Linked DNA regions of Homo sapiens: region 2 is linked to region 1. Evidence: fine-mapped expression QTL. Tissue or cell type: whole blood. Region 1 holds a variant in brackets; the other region holds the start of a gene. All regions are shown on one strand. Distances are from middle to middle.

The links. PIP is the estimated chance that this variant, and not a neighbour inherited with it, causes the effect.
Region 2: it holds the start of STARD10, and the variant in region 1 is fine-mapped to the expression of STARD10 in whole blood (TOPMed, PIP above 0.99).

Annotation. Positions count from the first base shown.
Region 1 is chr11:72,743,920-72,752,174 of GRCh38, forward strand. All of the region lies in intron 1 of ARAP1 (ArfGAP with RhoGAP domain, ankyrin repeat and PH domain 1), which reads right to left. Among named protein-coding and RNA genes, the nearest start is that of ARAP1, 4.4 kb to the right of the region's middle. RefSeq lists enhancers at 5,351-5,510, 8,170-8,255. The variant A/G (reference allele first, on the strand shown) is at 3,232.
Region 2 is chr11:72,789,367-72,797,366 of GRCh38, forward strand. It overlaps STARD10 (StAR related lipid transfer domain containing 10), which reads right to left and starts at 4,681. Exons shown (of 7, transcript NM_006645.3): 1 at 3,509-4,681. RefSeq lists enhancers at 2,806-3,305, 4,437-5,006.

The DNA.
Region 1 (8,255 bases):
TCAAGGGGCTTCCACCCACTGGCTCCTGCCACCTGCCCCTCCCCTCTGGTCTCATTTCCTCCACTCTCACGCTCCAACACCAGGGCTTCACCACCAAGCCTTTGCTTACCCGGTTCCCTTTGCCTAGAACATCTTTCTCTACCTCACCCTGCAAGCTCAAGTGCCACCTGCTTGAGGAAGCAGTCTCCGACTCCCACAGTCACAGCCCTGATCACACCAGATGTCACCATCTGTGACTGTGTGTGTCACCATCTGTGACTGTGTCTGTCACATACATACTCTCTTACCCCCAACCCTGGCTGGGTGCTTTCTCAGGCAAGACCAGGGATACCTGTGTCCCAAAGGTGGCACACAGTGAATATCTGTTGACTGAACGAACATTTCCCAATTTTACACATGGAGAGCCAGGCAAATGACAACTTGCCACTGCAAATCAGTGGCCAAAGTGTGGCCAGAACCCAGCCTCCAGCCTCCCAATACGAGGTGCCTCCCATTCCACCCAGTCCCACCCAGTTATAGTTCTACTATAGTTCTACTACCCAGCCCTGCCTTCTCGACCAGTACCACACAACCCAACCACCTGCTCCTTAGGCACTTAGGAACCACCAAATCAACCTTCCACATTTCTAGAAATGAAAGTAAGTCCCAGTCCCAGAAGGGGCAAGAACCTAGCCAGGGCCGCACGGGCAAGTCAGGACCATGACTCAGACCTTGGCCCCCGAGCCTGAGCTCAGATATCTCCAGCAGCCTGTTCCTTGGAAGAACTGGGGAGGGGGCCTCAGGCAACATTAGAGATACTGGAGCAACCTCCCTCCCCCGTCCCCCACATATCTCCAAGTGGGCTAAGCCAGTTCTGCACTGAGAAATGTGGGTTTTCAGGCCACAGGCAGTAGAGGCAAATGAGTGTCCTGGTTCATGTCCGTGGAACAGAAACTGGAACAGAACCACTAGACACCCCCTGGATCTTCAGACTCCCTAGGCTTAGCATGTCCATCTTTAGAGCCGAGAAAGAGACAGAAGGAAGAGAGCAGCCCCAGGCAGAGCAGGGGAGGGAAGCCTTTAGCCAAGGCTCTGGTGCCCCTTCACCAAGCACGGGAGCCGCTACCCCAGAGCTTTCCTGTTATCATCTGGAAAAGTGTCAGTCTCCAACTCTGCTCCTGGAGTGGAAAGGGGTGGCCCATTCTCCCTACCAGGCACACTGTGGCCACTGGGAACAAACTTGCATTTAAGCTGCAAACCCACACAGCAGCCCAAGTTTCTTTCTTTTTTTTTTTTTTTTTTTTTTTTGAGACGGAGTCTCGCTCTGTCGCCCAGGCTGGAGTGCAGTGGCTCGATCTCGGCTCACTGCAAGCTCCGCCTCACGGGTTCACGCCATTCTCCTGCCTCAGCCTCCTGAGTAGCTGGGACTACAGGCGCCTGCCACCACGTCCGGCTAATTTTTTTTTTTTTTTTTTTTTTGTATTTTTAGTAGAGACGGGGTTTCACCGTGTTAGCCAGGATGGTCTTGATCTCCTGACCTTGTGATCCGCCCGCGTCGGCCTCCCAAAGTGCTGGGATTACAGGCATGAGCCACCATGCCTGGCCACCCGAGAGACCAAGTTTCAAGTGGGTGAAAGCCTTGCCCAGCTCACACATCAAGGGGTGCAGAACTGGGCCCCTCCTACCCCAACCCATGAGGAATGCTGACCATACCCGCATGGAGTACCCACTGGAGGGATGTGCTGCAGGCTGGGGCTGGGAAGCACGACCCCGCCAGGAGCCTGGCCAGGCAATCTTCCAGGAGACACTCCTGTGTCCCAAAGGGCACCTGTGTCATGTCTCAAAGGTGGAGAGGACCAGGGGCCACACCTGGAATCTTGGCTGTCAGTGCCCTTCTCCTGGACGACTGCCTGGCTGGGCTCCTGGCTGGGTTGTGCTTCTCTGAGGGGCAGAGCTGCTCCTGACCCGCAGCCTCTTGAGTGCAGCTGCTGTGCCCACAGGCCCAGACAGCACGGGAAACAGCTAGGGATGGTAGCTCCTAAGTCCCTCAGTCAAGCCCAGCCTTCTATACCCTAAGGCAGAGCAATACGTCCCCTCAGGCTCTTGATCTCTGTCCACCACCTTCTGCAGAGGCTCCTGAGCCTGGCTCTGACCCTTCAAGGCTTAACCTTGGTCTGCTGAGCCACATCCCATACTGGCCCTGATGGCCAGCAGTGTGACCCTGACCTTGCTCTTTGAATTAGCCAGCCACCAGCCCTCCCCAACCCCGCCCTAGTGTCCACGGGAACAGCCCCACTACAACCCGTGAATGCAGAGGGGGCCTGGCCCATCTCTCCCCACTGCCAAGATAACTGAGTGCCCCTCTGCTACCACCTAGTCTGCAGGGTTCCCAGATTTCTTGAAGGGGAGACAGCCGGGTGTGTGCTGGGGGTGGTAGATGCAGGGAGCACCCGGCACCTGGAGACCAGCTGTGCCTCTGACCCACCAGCCAGCACTGAGAAACTCTCCAGGCCTCAGCCGTCTGCACCAACCAGGCTGAAGCACGGCACATGCCCCAGCCTCAACTTGGGGGTGACCCAGCCCAACTCGAGGCTTTTTAGGCTCTCGGAACCTAGAATTTCGGAAATTCAGAAGCTGGGACTCACAGGCACATAAAACCCTAAAATCCTCGAATCTCACCAGCCTAGAATCTCAGACTCAGAATCTTAAAATTCTAGCTGCTCAGTGTGAAGAGAAGGGAGTGGAGAGGAGTGGAACAGCCCCCTCCCCCCAACCCCCTCCCCCTCTCACCTGCCCAATTTGGTTGGTTTCTGTCCTGACCTGTTCACAACTGGGGGCTGGTAAGCCTGGGGGATCCCCAGAGTCGCTCCTTACTGCCCCTCCCTGAAGCTCCAGGGAAGTTGAGTACAGTAAAGATAAATGCCCAGCCAAAGGTCTCTCACTGAGCTAGAGGCCTGAGGCAGACCCTGGGTTCCTGACTCTGCACCTGACTACAGGCAGACCCCTGCCCTATGCATTATGGGTTGGGGAGGAGAGAGGGGGATGCCCAGGGTGGGGCAGTGCTCGCTGGGCCAGTAGGAAAGCTGGCAGGGGAGACCCTGGCACCTGGAAAGCCGAAATGCAGTGGCAGCTCAGCCTTGCTCCTGGTCTTCTGTCCCGGGGGTTAAGCCACCCCAGCACTGGCCTGGCCAGAAGGAGGCAGGGCCAGCCCAAGCTCCCCCAGGGCCACTGACAGCCAAGATTCCAGGTGTG[A/G]CCCCTGGTTCTGCCCTGAGAATGGGGATAGAGAAGTGGCCCTCCTGATCTTCTCCCACCCTCTTGCCTTTACCGTTGCCCTCACAACAGTGAGGATAAGGACAGGAGGGAGATTTTAACACATCCCCTCAGGGAGGACTCTCTGATGCCTTAATCTTCCTCTAGGCCCCTCTGACCCTGAGCCCCACACACTGGACCATAGGTGGTCCCTGTCTCTGGGCTCTAGAACCATGTTTCCAGGGTTGTTCAGTTACTGACACCCTGCTGTAGCAAAGCCCCAGCATCCCAACAGGATCAGGTTCCTGGTTTGGTCAGGGAGAAAAGACTTGGACCTTGTAACAAGGCAGTGTGGGCAGGGTCTGAAGGAAGCTCAACACTTCAGGAAGCCCCAACCAGGCCTCAAGCAGAGAGGTAGAATGCAGGCCTCAGAGCGCCCTGCCGGGGTTCCAGGGCCTGCTCTTGCTTTCCTTGGCTGAGAGACTGCAGGCAAGTCACCACCTTCTACTGGCCTTAGTCTCATCAGCAAAATGGGGTCTGGGAGAACCACTGTATGAACAAGAGCCAAGGTGGATAGGACAATAGCAGAAACCAAACCTCCACAAGACGCTTATCCCAGGGCCAGGGCCACGGGGGCTCAGGATTTGACGGCAATTAGTCCCGTCTGCAAGCAGGATACCCCTGTACCCTTGAGGGCACCCCAGATCCACAGTTGGTCACCAGCAATGTCACCTGACCAGGTGGCCCTCTAGTCTCTGCCTATCACTGACTAGGCATTCCCAGGGTAGGACTGGGTTTAGATCTCCTCTGTCTGCAATGCCTCCCAGTGCTTGTGGTTTTCACTGTGAAGCAATGGAAATGTAGATTCCCAGCTATTCTATGTAATGGATGATCTTGGACAAATCACTTAACTTCTTGGGACCTCAGTTTCCTCATGTGGAAAATGGGAATGGTGCCTACCTCAGAAGACTATTTTGAGGATTAAATGAATTCAGTATATAAAGTGCTTAGCACACTGCCTGGCACATAGTCAGCTTCCAAGAAACAATAGCTACTGCTACTATTATTACTACTATTAAATAATGATTTGTTGACTGGGCCCAGTGGCTCACACCTGTAATCCCAGCACTTTGGGAGGCCAAGGCGGGCGGATCACGAGGTCAGGAGTTCAAGATCATCCTGGCCAACATGGTGAAACCCCGTCTCTACTAAAAATACAAAAATTAGCTGGGTATGGTGGCGCGTGCCTGTAATCCCAGCTACTCGGGAGGCTGAGGCAGGAGAATCGCTTGAACCCGGGAGGCGGAGGTTGCAGTGAGCCGAGATCATGCCACCACACTTGAGCCTGGGCTACAGAGCAAGACTCCATCTCAAAAAAAAAAAAAATGATTTGTTATTGAACTGGTCACTTAACTCCACGTCCCCTCCCAGCCACTCTTTGACTGTCCCAGTGGCCTAGGACAGATAACCTAACTATGGGACAGGCTCTTCCCCTCTGTACTACGGCCCAAGGATGAGAAAAAGAGACATTCCACAGGAAGACCATGTGGAACACAATCCATGCATTGCCCCCCACCATCTTTCACATCTGGGGTCATCTGCCTCCAGGTGGGACTGTCCTCCTCAGATCCCTGGTTGGAATGCACATACAGTCTGGGGGCCTGGCCAGGGGTAGGGGAAGGTGGAAAAAATGTTATCTCTGATCAGAGCTGGGGACACTGGGGTTGATTCAGCGGCAGCCTCTGAGTTTTGTGGGGCATGCACATTGGATGGGGATGTCTCCCCACCCACCAAATCCTCATGCTGTTCAGAACCCTGGAGTGGCCACCCTTAGCACAGAACTCCTTTCTAAAACATAACACCTCTCTGCACAGGGCTGTGGAGGGTGCTGACTCTAACCTGCCCAAGACCAGAGAAAGAAATGAGAAGAGCTGCCCGAGGGACTGGACTCTGCTCCAGAGCGGGGACTGGGTCAGCTTAGCTGGGGTCACACACTGTTCAAGGCTGCCTCGGTCACCACCCGGGGAAAGCACCTCACTCAGCCCTGGGAGGTGCTCAAAGAGTAAGATCAAAGTGAAGTCAGACAAAGGAGGCAATGAACACCTGGGTCCTGACCCTGTCTCTCTACCACCCTCCCAATGTATTCTTACACAAGTTACTTAGCCTCTCTGTGCCTCAGTTTCCTTATCTGTAGAATGTCACCTAATTTCTTGGGTTATTGGCAGGGTGGAATTGGTTAATATGGATAAAACTTTACAACAGTGCTATAGGCATGTTTGCTGACCTCATTCTCACTGATGTTATTACTCAGCTTTCTCTAAGGCTGTTACTTCCACTATGATATTGGAGGGTGATGGTCGTCTTATGCTCTTATGCAATTATGTAAATCATTAGATGACAAATGTGCAGTGTCCAGCACACAGCAGGTACTCAACAAAGAATGTTCCCTCTCCCAGCCGGGAGTGGTGGCTCACACCTGTAACCCCAGCAGTTTGGGAGGCTGAGGCGGGCAGATCACGAGGTCAGGAGATTGAGACCATCCTGGCTAACAAGGTGAAACCCCGTCTCTACTAAAAATACAAAAATTAGCCAGGTGTGGTGGCGGGCGCCTGTAGTCCCAGCTACTCAGGAGGCTGAGGCAGGAGAATGGCATGAACCCAGAAGGTGGAGCCAAGATTGTGCCACTGCACTCCAGCCTGGGCAACAGAGCAAGACTCCGTCTCAAAAAAAAAAAAAAAGTTCCCTCTCCCTCTCTCCCCTTTCCCCCAGAGAGGCCAGACTAGGAGACAGAACCTGTCCTGACCCCCACCAGGGGTCTCTGTGTGATCCTACCCTCATCTCTAGCTCTTGGCCTCAGTTTCCCCATCTGTGAAAGAAGCTTTTAGGCCAAATGGTCTCTAAGTGTCCATGGCCATATCTGCTCCAGCCTGTCCCCCACCCTTGTTCCCTCCTTCCTTCCCCATTTCCTACTGCATCCCCTCCTGATGTGACAGAACCCTTGGGAGCCTGAAGCGGGGTAGAGGGGACAGCTGGTGAACAAGAATCACCAGCCCTCAAGGAGCCCAGGGCCCGGTCCAGGCCCCCAAGGGTTAAGACCTAGAGTGAGGGGCGGGGGGCCAGGGTCAGCGCTGGACAGGCGGGCCTGGAGCCCAGGGCCTGCCTCCCCTCCCCCTACCCTGGGAACAGAGGCCACTTGTTTGGGCAGTGGCGGGTGGCTTTGAGCTCAGCCAAGGGAGAGTTGGGTGGGAAGGAGAGAGGGCTCCGGAAAATGGAAGGGACTCCCCACCTCCAGCCGATGCCCTAGGCCTGGTCCACCACTAGCCCCCGATACTCTCAGACACCCCCCCAACCCCTCTAAACTGACCCCTTCCCCTGGGTTCTCTCTTTCTTTCATTCAAACTCTCAATGCTGGAGACAGGACTTAGCAGATAGGCCTATTGCCCCAGCATCTTAGCAGATAGGCCTGACTATTGCCCCAGCACCGTCTCTCTTTGGGGCATGAGGCCAGGGCTGATCACTCCATCCTGCAGATGGGGAAATGGAGGCTCTGAGGAATTTGGGGACTTGTAGAGTCACATAGTGATTGGTGGCTGCACAAGGACTCGGGGCCCCAGGTCCCATGATCCCCATGGCTCTGCAGGCCCCATCCCCACAGAGCTCCAAGGAGACCCTTCCTAAGCTGTGCCATTACACAAGACTGAAGGCTGGGCAGGAAGGAGGGGCAACAGCAGCCCATCTCTGAAACCTGAAGTCCCAAAGGACCTGGGGATTTGAATGGGGAGGAAGCTTCTAGAGGGTTGGGAGGAGGATTAACAATCTGTACAAAAAGCTGAGGCTGGATGTGTGAAGCATGGCTGGAGCCCAGGTGGTGGGGGTATAAAGCTGGGGTTGAGTAGGAGGCTTGAATGCAAAACAAAACCTGGGGGCCATCAGGGCTCTGGTGGCCTCTGCCCCCTCCACCTCATCAGTCACCGGTACTCTGCCTGGGACACCCCCTTCCTAAACTACTCCAATATGCAAGTAGCCAATGGGGAGGCAAGGTCCCCAGGCCCAGTCCTGACAATCCCCAGCCAGGAATGGGACACAGGATGAGTTCTCTCTACACCTCTGCCAGCCACACCCACCTTTCTGCCATTCCTCAGACACACCATCCAAATTCCTGACTTTGCACAAGCTACGCCCTCGCCTTTGGAGGGTCCTTATCCTTGTAAATTGCCACTTAACTGCCAAGCCCATTCCAGTCATCCCCTCCCCTGGGGCCTGCACCTGTCCACACCTGTCTTCAAGGCTCTGCTGGGCTCCTTCTACCCTGTGATGATCTTGCTGGGCAGTCTCTCCCAGCCTGGCCTCTGGGGACTCTCCGCGAACAGGTATCATGAGTGCCTCAGTCTGGGACCCTGGGACCCACCAAAGAGTCAAATCCTTCCGAGTACCCCCAGGTATCTGGCCCTGAAGCACCCCCCTCCCACCTATCTGGGATCAGGGAAGGCTCCCCAGGATATGGGATGTGGGGGAAGGGACGGTATATAGCAGAAACCACAGCGTGATGGCTTCTGGCCAGATTCCCCCCCTCCCCGCCGGCCCTGCACCAAACACCCATCCCCTGCCCCCAGGCTGCACCCTAAGCCTGCTCTCTCCAGGCCCAACCACCCCACTCCCAGCGTGACCCCATTCCCTGAGCACATACTTTCTTTCACCAGCAACTGGGCCAGGTAGGGGCTCTGGGGAAGCCATGCCCCATTTACTGGTGGGGAATTGAGATGCAGAGACCGGAAGTAGCCTGCCCAAGGTCACTGGAGCCCCAGGCCCAGGGCATAGGGTCGTACAGATCTCCAGAAATGTAAAGGTCTCAGCGGCCAACGAGGTGGGAGCCTTCACTTCACAGATGGGAACCCCAAGGCGCCCGAGGGCGGCTGACTCCAGAGACCCTTCACGCCAAAGGGCTACGGGCTGGAAGCCCCGGGTCCCGCTGGTTCACCCCCCTTCCCTACCGTCTCTGGCCCGCTGGCTTATCCTCAAGAGGCGAC
Region 2 (8,000 bases), 45 kb after region 1:
GTCTGGAGGCAATGATTTCTTTCTCCTGAGTGGGGTTAACCTAGAGCCTGGAGGGTTGAGAGGGAAGAGAGGTAGCTGAAATGACATCTTGTCCCCCTCCCTCACCCCCAATCCAAGCAGAGCTGCGAAAGGCCTGGTGTCAATGGCATTTGCTCCTTGCACCCACACAGCCCCTCCTCAATGTCTGACAGCTGCATGCTGGGACAGCAGTGAGGCACAGGGGGTCTGGCCATGTCTAGCCAGAGGGCAGCATGGCACTGAGAGGTCCACATTCCAGGGGCTGGCTCCCAGGACCGCGTGAGGACTGGTGTGGGTGGAATTCTCTAGGGGCTCTGTCTGAGAATGGGGCTGAAGGCTCTGCCCTGGGTCAAGGTTCACCCTAGGTTCCAAACCCACACCTGGAACAGGCCTGCAGCAGGCTCAGCTTCCATGGGCACTGCTATCTGGGGACTCCTGCCAACCACTGCTCCCTGCCGTGAGTCCCTGGTGTTCTGGGTCAGCAGGTATCTCCACAGGCTTCCCGGGGGAAGACTGCCTCTTTCAGCACCTTCTAAATTTAGGGCTTGGGCTCCGTGACTCACTCCTCTGAGCCTGCTTTGCTCCCCTCCTCCAGGAATGTGCTCCCACAGGATCTGCATCCTCTGCTGCCTCAGACTGATGAAGGCCCCACAATCCTGCAGCAGCCACACGCACACCAAGGAGAGCTCTCGGCCCCACTCGCCCCAGACCGGCCCTGGGTTTCTCCCGACTGGGCCCTGTACTCTCCTTCCCTTACCTCTCCATCTTCCCAACCCTCCCTGCAAACCACAGCCCACCCAGGTGGCTACATTGGGAGCTGGCTCCAAGCATGACTATGAGGGTAGTGGGGGGAGGAGAGGTGGAATCAAGCCCTGCCCCCTCCCATGTGGCTGTGGGCAGAGCCCTCACCTGAAGTCAGGAGGCTTGAGTTCTGGACCAGACTCACGCTTACCTCGCCGTGGGGCTCTCAGTGAGTTCTGGCCTCTCTGGGATTCTCTTTCCTCCTCTATAAATAAGGAGTTTGAACCAGACTTCCATTAGGGAAGCTTGAAACAGAGCTAAAGTGAGCACAGGGCCAGGCCTCCAACTACTAACAAGGTGGGCCGGGGGGGTATCTGATGTCAGGCCCTGTCTCCCACCCAGGCGCCCCTCTTCCCCCAGCCCCTGCTCCATGAGGGGAAACGAGGACCAAGAACCTGCTGTTAGCATTCATGGACTTCTGCCATGCAGGGAGGAAGCTCATGCACAACCCCACACCCTGAAAGGGCCAGAAAGAGCCCAGGATCTTGTTCTGGTCTGACTGTCCAGGGCTGTAATGTGTAGCTTTGAGTAAAAACCATCTTCACTCTTGGCCTCAGGTTGTGGGGAAGAGAATCATGTGCATGTGCAGGTGTAAACACTCGAGACATTTCTCCCCTGCCAGCTTCCCAGAACTGGAGGAGGAGATGGGGACATGGGTCCTCCCTTGACTTTCAGAAATGCAGGCACCCAGGGCAGGGTGTGGAGGTATCTAGAGATGGTCAGACCTGGGGCTGCTGCTTCTCTGCCCCTGCATTGACTTTTGGAGAACCCCATCTGCGGCCTGCCTCGACCTGTGTTCACAAGTAACAACAGTGGCTAACAGTTACTGAATGCTTACCACGGGCCTGGTGCTGGTCTATGCACTTAACAGGTCTTAACTCATTTAATTTATAGGTAAACCTTGATAACAGGTCTTAACTCATTTAATTTATAGGTAAACATTGAGACAGTCCCAAGGCTTAGCATCCCCACTTTACAGACAATTTGAGGCTCAGAGAGGGGCAGGGACTCACCTGGGGTCACAGTCTTAAATCACTGGGAGGGCTGGTTAAAAGCCAGGTCTGAGGGCAATCCTGGCTTCTATTTGCTACCCCAAGGTAGTCCTTCTCGGAGTATACATTAGACACTAAATAAATGTTTGATGAAGATGTTTGACTACTGCCATGTAATGGAAAGATCCCTGTCGTAGTCCAGTTCTACCCCAACTCCTTGTGTGTCCTTAATAGAGTCCTTTTCTGGCCGGGCGTGGTGACTCATGCCCATAATCCCAGCACTTTGGGAGGCCGCGAATGGATCACCTGAGGTCAGGAGTTTGAGACCAGCCTGGCCAACATGGTGAAACCGTGTCTCTACTAAAAATACAAAAAATTAGCCAGGCATGGTAGTGGGCACCTGTAATCCCAGCTACTTGGCAGGCTGAGGCAGGAGAATTGCTTAAACCCAGGAGGCGGAGGTTGCAGTGAGCCAAGATCGCACCCTTGCACTCCAGCCTGGGCAACAAGAGTGAAATTCCGTCTCAAAAAAAAAAAAAGAGGTCCTTTTCCTTCTTTAGCCTCAGTTTCTCTGGCTGAAAAACAGAAATGATAAGTGAAGGCCCAGATAATTAAATGCTTGGAGGTGAATCCAAGATCCACCTCCAGATAATTCCATTGAATTATCTTGGATACCTTTTTGTTGTTGTGTTTTGTTTTGTTTTGTTTTGTTTTGAGACGGAGTTTCGTTCTTGTTGCCCAGGCTGGAGTGCAATGGCACCATCTCGGCCCACGACAACCTCCGCCTCCTGGGTTCAAGCGATTCTTCTGCCTCAGCCTCCCGAGTAGCTGGGACTACCGGCATACACCACCACACCTGGCTAATTTTTTTTTTTTTTTTTTTTTTTTTTGAGACAGAGTCTTACTCTGTCAGCCAGGCTGGAGTACAGTGGCGCCATCTCGGCTCACCGCAAGCTCCGTCTCCCGGGTTCACGCCATTCTCCTGCCCCAGCCTCCCGAGTAGCTGGGACTACAGGTGCCCGCCACAACGCCCGGTTAATTTTTTTTTTTGTATTTTTAGTAGAGATGGAGTTTCTCCACTTTGGTCAGGCTGATCTCAACCCCCAACCTCAGGTGATCCGCTCGCCTCAGCCTCCCAAAGTGCTGAGATTACAGGCGTGAGCCACCGTGCCTGGCCTATCTGGGATATCTTGAAGGATCTTGGATTTCTATTTCTACATATACCTGCCTTTCATGACTTGCCTGGGGAGGCCCAATCTGTAATGAGACCTCAGGGTCTCCCAGCCCTTCCCCCAACCTACCCCCAAAACCTCTAAGAGCACTCTAGAGAGAATCAGCTGCATACAGCCCAGCTCCACCGCTCCAAGGGTCAGAGAAAAGTCCCCTTCCCTGGGGTTAGCTGCATGATCCTGCAGGTGCCATGGTGTGCCTAGGTGCCACCTCGCTTCACCTGGCTGGGGAGTGGCTCCTAGACCTCAGCTCAATGCGCATCACTTCCCCTTCTCATCAGCCAGGCCAGCCCAGGTATCACCTCCAGCTCCACTGCCCCCAGATGGAGTTACCTGAGTACCCAATTCCTCCCAAGCTCAGAAACAGTGTCCACTGCCTTCCCACTCCTTTCCATTCAGAGTCTGTCCCCTTAGTGCTGCCCCCTCATCTGTCACACCTGGGTTCTTTCCCTTACTTGGGCCACTGACCTGAGAAGCAGGGTCTGTACAGCTCCAGCAACACTCTCCTCTTCCTCCAGAATTCTCCAGATCCTCCTCAGCTTCTTGGCTCTGGTGCTCATCTCAACACAGCAGGGTCTTCCTCCATCAGGCCAAGGTGGGGGTAGGAGAAGAATTGGGAACAGGGACTCCCCTAGGTTCTCAGGGTACAGTCAGTCAATCTAAGCCTGTATCCAACAAAGACACTGACCCCTGGGGTACAAGGAAGGGCTCCAGGCCCAAAGGCAGGAGGATTAGGCTTTAGCTCTTGCTCACAGCCTGCTGAGACCTGGGGCAAGCCCCTGTCCCTCTTTGGGCCCTCAGGTTTGCAATTTGCAGAATGAGGAAATGGGTTCCTCAATCTACAATCACCTGACTATAATAATATTTTGCCTTTATATACCGCGTGGGTAAATTCCTGAAAGTAAACTAAGCTGTTTTCACCCCTGGATCTCATTTGATCCTCCCAACAGCCTGTTTGCATTTACAAATGAGAAAGCTCAGTTCCCTAAGGGAACAAAATTACCCAAAGTCACACAGCAAGCTGGAAGCAGAGCCTGGGTGCAGTCCTTGAATCCTGATCCTTCCCTGGTCCTTTACTCTCTATGATGCTGGAAATCTGCCTGACTTCCTCTAACCTGTTGTCCCATTTGTAAAAGGACTGTTGTGAGGACTGAATTAGGAGAGGCGATGAAGAGGGTCATTCCTTGTGAATCATAAAAGAAAGGACCACAGAACGATGACTGGACCGTTAGGTTACTATTTATTACGGTTATCTTCGCTCAGGCGCCCCCACGTGTCGATCCCGAGACTCTCGGCTTGCGCAGGCGCTCTTTGGTGTTTACAGCGGCCGCGAAGCCCCGCGTTTGCGCGTGCGCTTCCCGCCCGGGACCGCCCAGAGGTCCCGGACTAGGGGCGGACTAGGGGCCGCTCTGCCTCCCGCCCCCTAGTGGTTGTGGCCGCTCTGTCACCACGGCTCCCGGGGCCTCTGTCGGCTCCACTTTGGTTGAGACGTCTCCACAGCCCAACAACGGCGGCGATCTGAGGAGAGGCAGGAGAAAATACGGCGCGCTCGGCATCGTCCTTCTGACCGGGGACTCCAGCATCTCAGTCATCGCGTCACCAAGCCCCACGTGCAGGTTCTGGCATCCATCATGGCAAACTGGAGACCGCGGTGAATTCCACCGGAATGGCGCGCGCATTGCCACATGGGAACTGTAGTTCTTGGCTAGGACCTTTCTGGGGCTGGGCCGCTGGAAAAACTACATTTCTCAGGAGCTCAAGAGTCAGGCTGACAGAAAGGGGGCCCGCGGCATGTTGGGAGATGGAGTTTGGGGGGTTCGTGCTAGCAGGGAAACAGTGAAGCAATGGAGCCAAGTGTTCTGAGCCTGGGCCTGTGGGTTTGAGTTGGGCAGGAGTTACACAGTAGCTCTTATAAGAGAGGAGTAGCATTGTTGCGGCTTTTAGAAAGAATGCTACTTATTAGTTGTGTGATCTGAGCGATCAAGACAAATGCCCCTTTATCTTTTTTATTTATTTATTTTTTGAGACAGGGTCTCTGTCTGTCAGGCTGGAGTGCAGTGGCCCCAGAACTGCTGGCCTCCCGCCTCACCCTCCCAAAGTGCTGGGATTATAGGCGTGAGCCATCAGGCCTGGCCAGATGCCTTTTTATCAACTACGATGGACCTTAAGGTTAAGGTTAAGGAAACAAACGTTGCCTACCTCAGGGCTCAGCTGTCAGCTGGCATGGCAACTTCTTAAATTTCTACTGCTGCCAGAAAAACCACACTCTTACTAAACCCCTAGCAATAGGAGCTATCATGCAAATTGTCAGACTCTTCTTTACTGAGATTTACAACTCAGACCACTACAACGCTGATCGACAGAGGACAGGCCTTACAAACATTCTTTCCTGATAAGTAACTGCAGACCTCAGGCCAGTTTCAGCAAGCTCATAGAGACTGCACGCAAACTGTGTTTGTGTCCTATAGTCCACCTTATGATGCAAAGAACCAAATTCCACCTCACTTTAACGCAAAAACCCCATCCCAAAGTGAACATGGAACATATGTTACAGGTGTTTACCCATTGTGCATGCACTCACATCCCCTCATAAATATGTATAGCTTTTCCCCAAAACCTGCTGAATATGTATGATTATTGTGAAATACAGACCCTGTGAGTCATAAACCAGCCTAGGCCGGGAGTGGTGGCTCACGCCTGTAATCCCAGCACTTTGGGAGGCCAAGACGGGCGGATCACGAGGTCAGAAGATTGAGACCATCCTGGCTAACATGGTGAAACCCCGTCTCTACTAAAAATACAAAAAAATTAGCTGGGTGTGGTGGCGGGCGCCTGTAGTCCCAGCTACTCGGGAGGCTGAGGCAGGAGAATGGCATGAACCTGGGAGGTGGAGGTTGCAGTGAGCCGAGATCGCACCACTGCATTCCAGCCTGGGCGACTGAGCGAGACTCCGTCTCAAAAAACAAAAACAAAAAACAACCAGCCTGCCTTTTCCCTATACAAAGAGAGAGCACCTTTGGTACCTACAGGAGAGTGTCTCTTTTCAGTTTGCAAACTGATGTCGCTAATGAAACTGCCCTCTACTATTTAGGCATCCTGGTGTTCTAGAGGGTAGCAGTCTGCACCTCTCACAGGGCTTCCTCTTCCATCACTCCTCAGAGACTGTATTCACAGGGGTCACCTGTGTGTGAGATGCAGTTTGTCTTTTTTGGGGGGAGGGCAGGGGCTGTTCGTTTGTGGTTTTTTTTTTGTTTTTTGTTTTTTTTTTTGAGACGGAGACTTGCTCTGTCATCTAGGCTGGAGTGCAGTGGCATGATCTGGGGCTCACTGCCAGCTCCGCCTCCCGGGTTCATGCCATTCTCCTGCCTCAGCCTCCTGAGTAGCTGGGTCTACAGGCACCCGCCACCACGCCGGGCTAATTTTTTTTTTTGTATTTTTTTAGTAGAGATGGGGTTTCACCGTGTTAGCCAGGATGGTCTCGATCTCCTGACCGTGTGATCCGCCCACCTCGGCCTCCCAAAGTGCTGGGATTACAGGTGTGAGCCACTGTGCCCGGCCTTGTTTTTGTTTTTTTGAGACAGGGTCTCATTCTGTCACCCAGGCTGGAGGCAAGACCATTGTTCACTGCAGCCTGGACCTCCTGGGCTCAATCTATTCTCCCACCTCAACCTCCTGAGTAGCTGTGTTTATAGGCACACACCACTACACCTGGCTAATTTTTTTTTAATTCTCACTTTAATTATGTTTTGCCTTTTTTTTTTTTTTTTTTAGATGGAGTCTTATTCTGTCACCCTGGCTGGAGTGCAGTGGCTCACTGCAACGATCTTGGCTCACTGCAACCTCCGCCTGCCAGGTTCAAGGGATTCTTCTACTTCAGCCTCCCAAGTAGCTGAGATTACAGGCGCACACCAACACGCCCAGCTAATTTTTTTTTTTTTTTTGAGAAGGAGTCTTGCTCTGTCGCTCAGGCTGGAGTGCAGTGTCGTGATCTTGGCTCACTGCAACCTCTGCCTCCTGGGTTCAAGAGATTCTCCCGCCTCAGCCTCCTGAGTAGCTGGGATTACAGGTGCTCACCACCATGCCCAGCAATTTTTTTTTTTGTATTTTTTTAGAGACGAGGTTTCACGCTGTTGGTCAGGCTGGTCACGAACTCCCGATCTCATGATCCACCCACCTCGGCCTCCCAAAGTGCTGGGATTACAGGCGTGAGCCATCATGCCTGGCCTAATTTTTGTATTTTTAGTAGAGATGGGGTTTCACCATGGTGGCCAGGCTGGTCTCAAACTCCTGACCTCAGGTGATCCCCCTGCCTTGGCCTCCCAAAGTGCTGGAATTGCAGGTGTGAGCCACCGCGCCCAGCCTAATTTTTTGTGATTTTTGTAGAGACAGGGTTACGCCATGTTGCCCAGGCTGGTCTCAAACTCTTGAGTTCAAGGGATCCTCCTGCCTTGCCTCCCAAAGTGCTGGGATTACAGGCGTGAACCACCCCACCTGGTCTCAAACTCCTCTTTGGAAAAAAAGTATGGGCCACAGATTCTACTGTGGCTGTTGTCTCTTTCCCAGGTTTGTCCTCAACCATGGTAAAATAAATCTCTAAACTGATAGAGACCTGTCTCAGGTACTTTTTGGTTTACAAAATTGTATTAATAGGCCGGGTGCAGTGGCTCACGCTTGTAATCCCAACACTTTCAGAGGCCAAGGCATGGGGATCACTCGAGGCCAGGAGTTCGAGACCAGCCTGGCCAACATGGCGAAAACTTGTCTCTACCAAAAATACAAAAATTAGTCAGGCATGGTGGTGCACACCTGTAATCCCAGCTACTTAGGAGGCTGAGGCAGGAGAATCGCTTGAGCCTGGGAGGTGGAGGTTGCAGTGAGCCGAGATTGTGCCACTGCACTCTGCACTCTGGCCTGGGCAACAGAGTGAGACTCTGTCTCAAAAAAAAAAACAATTTTTTAA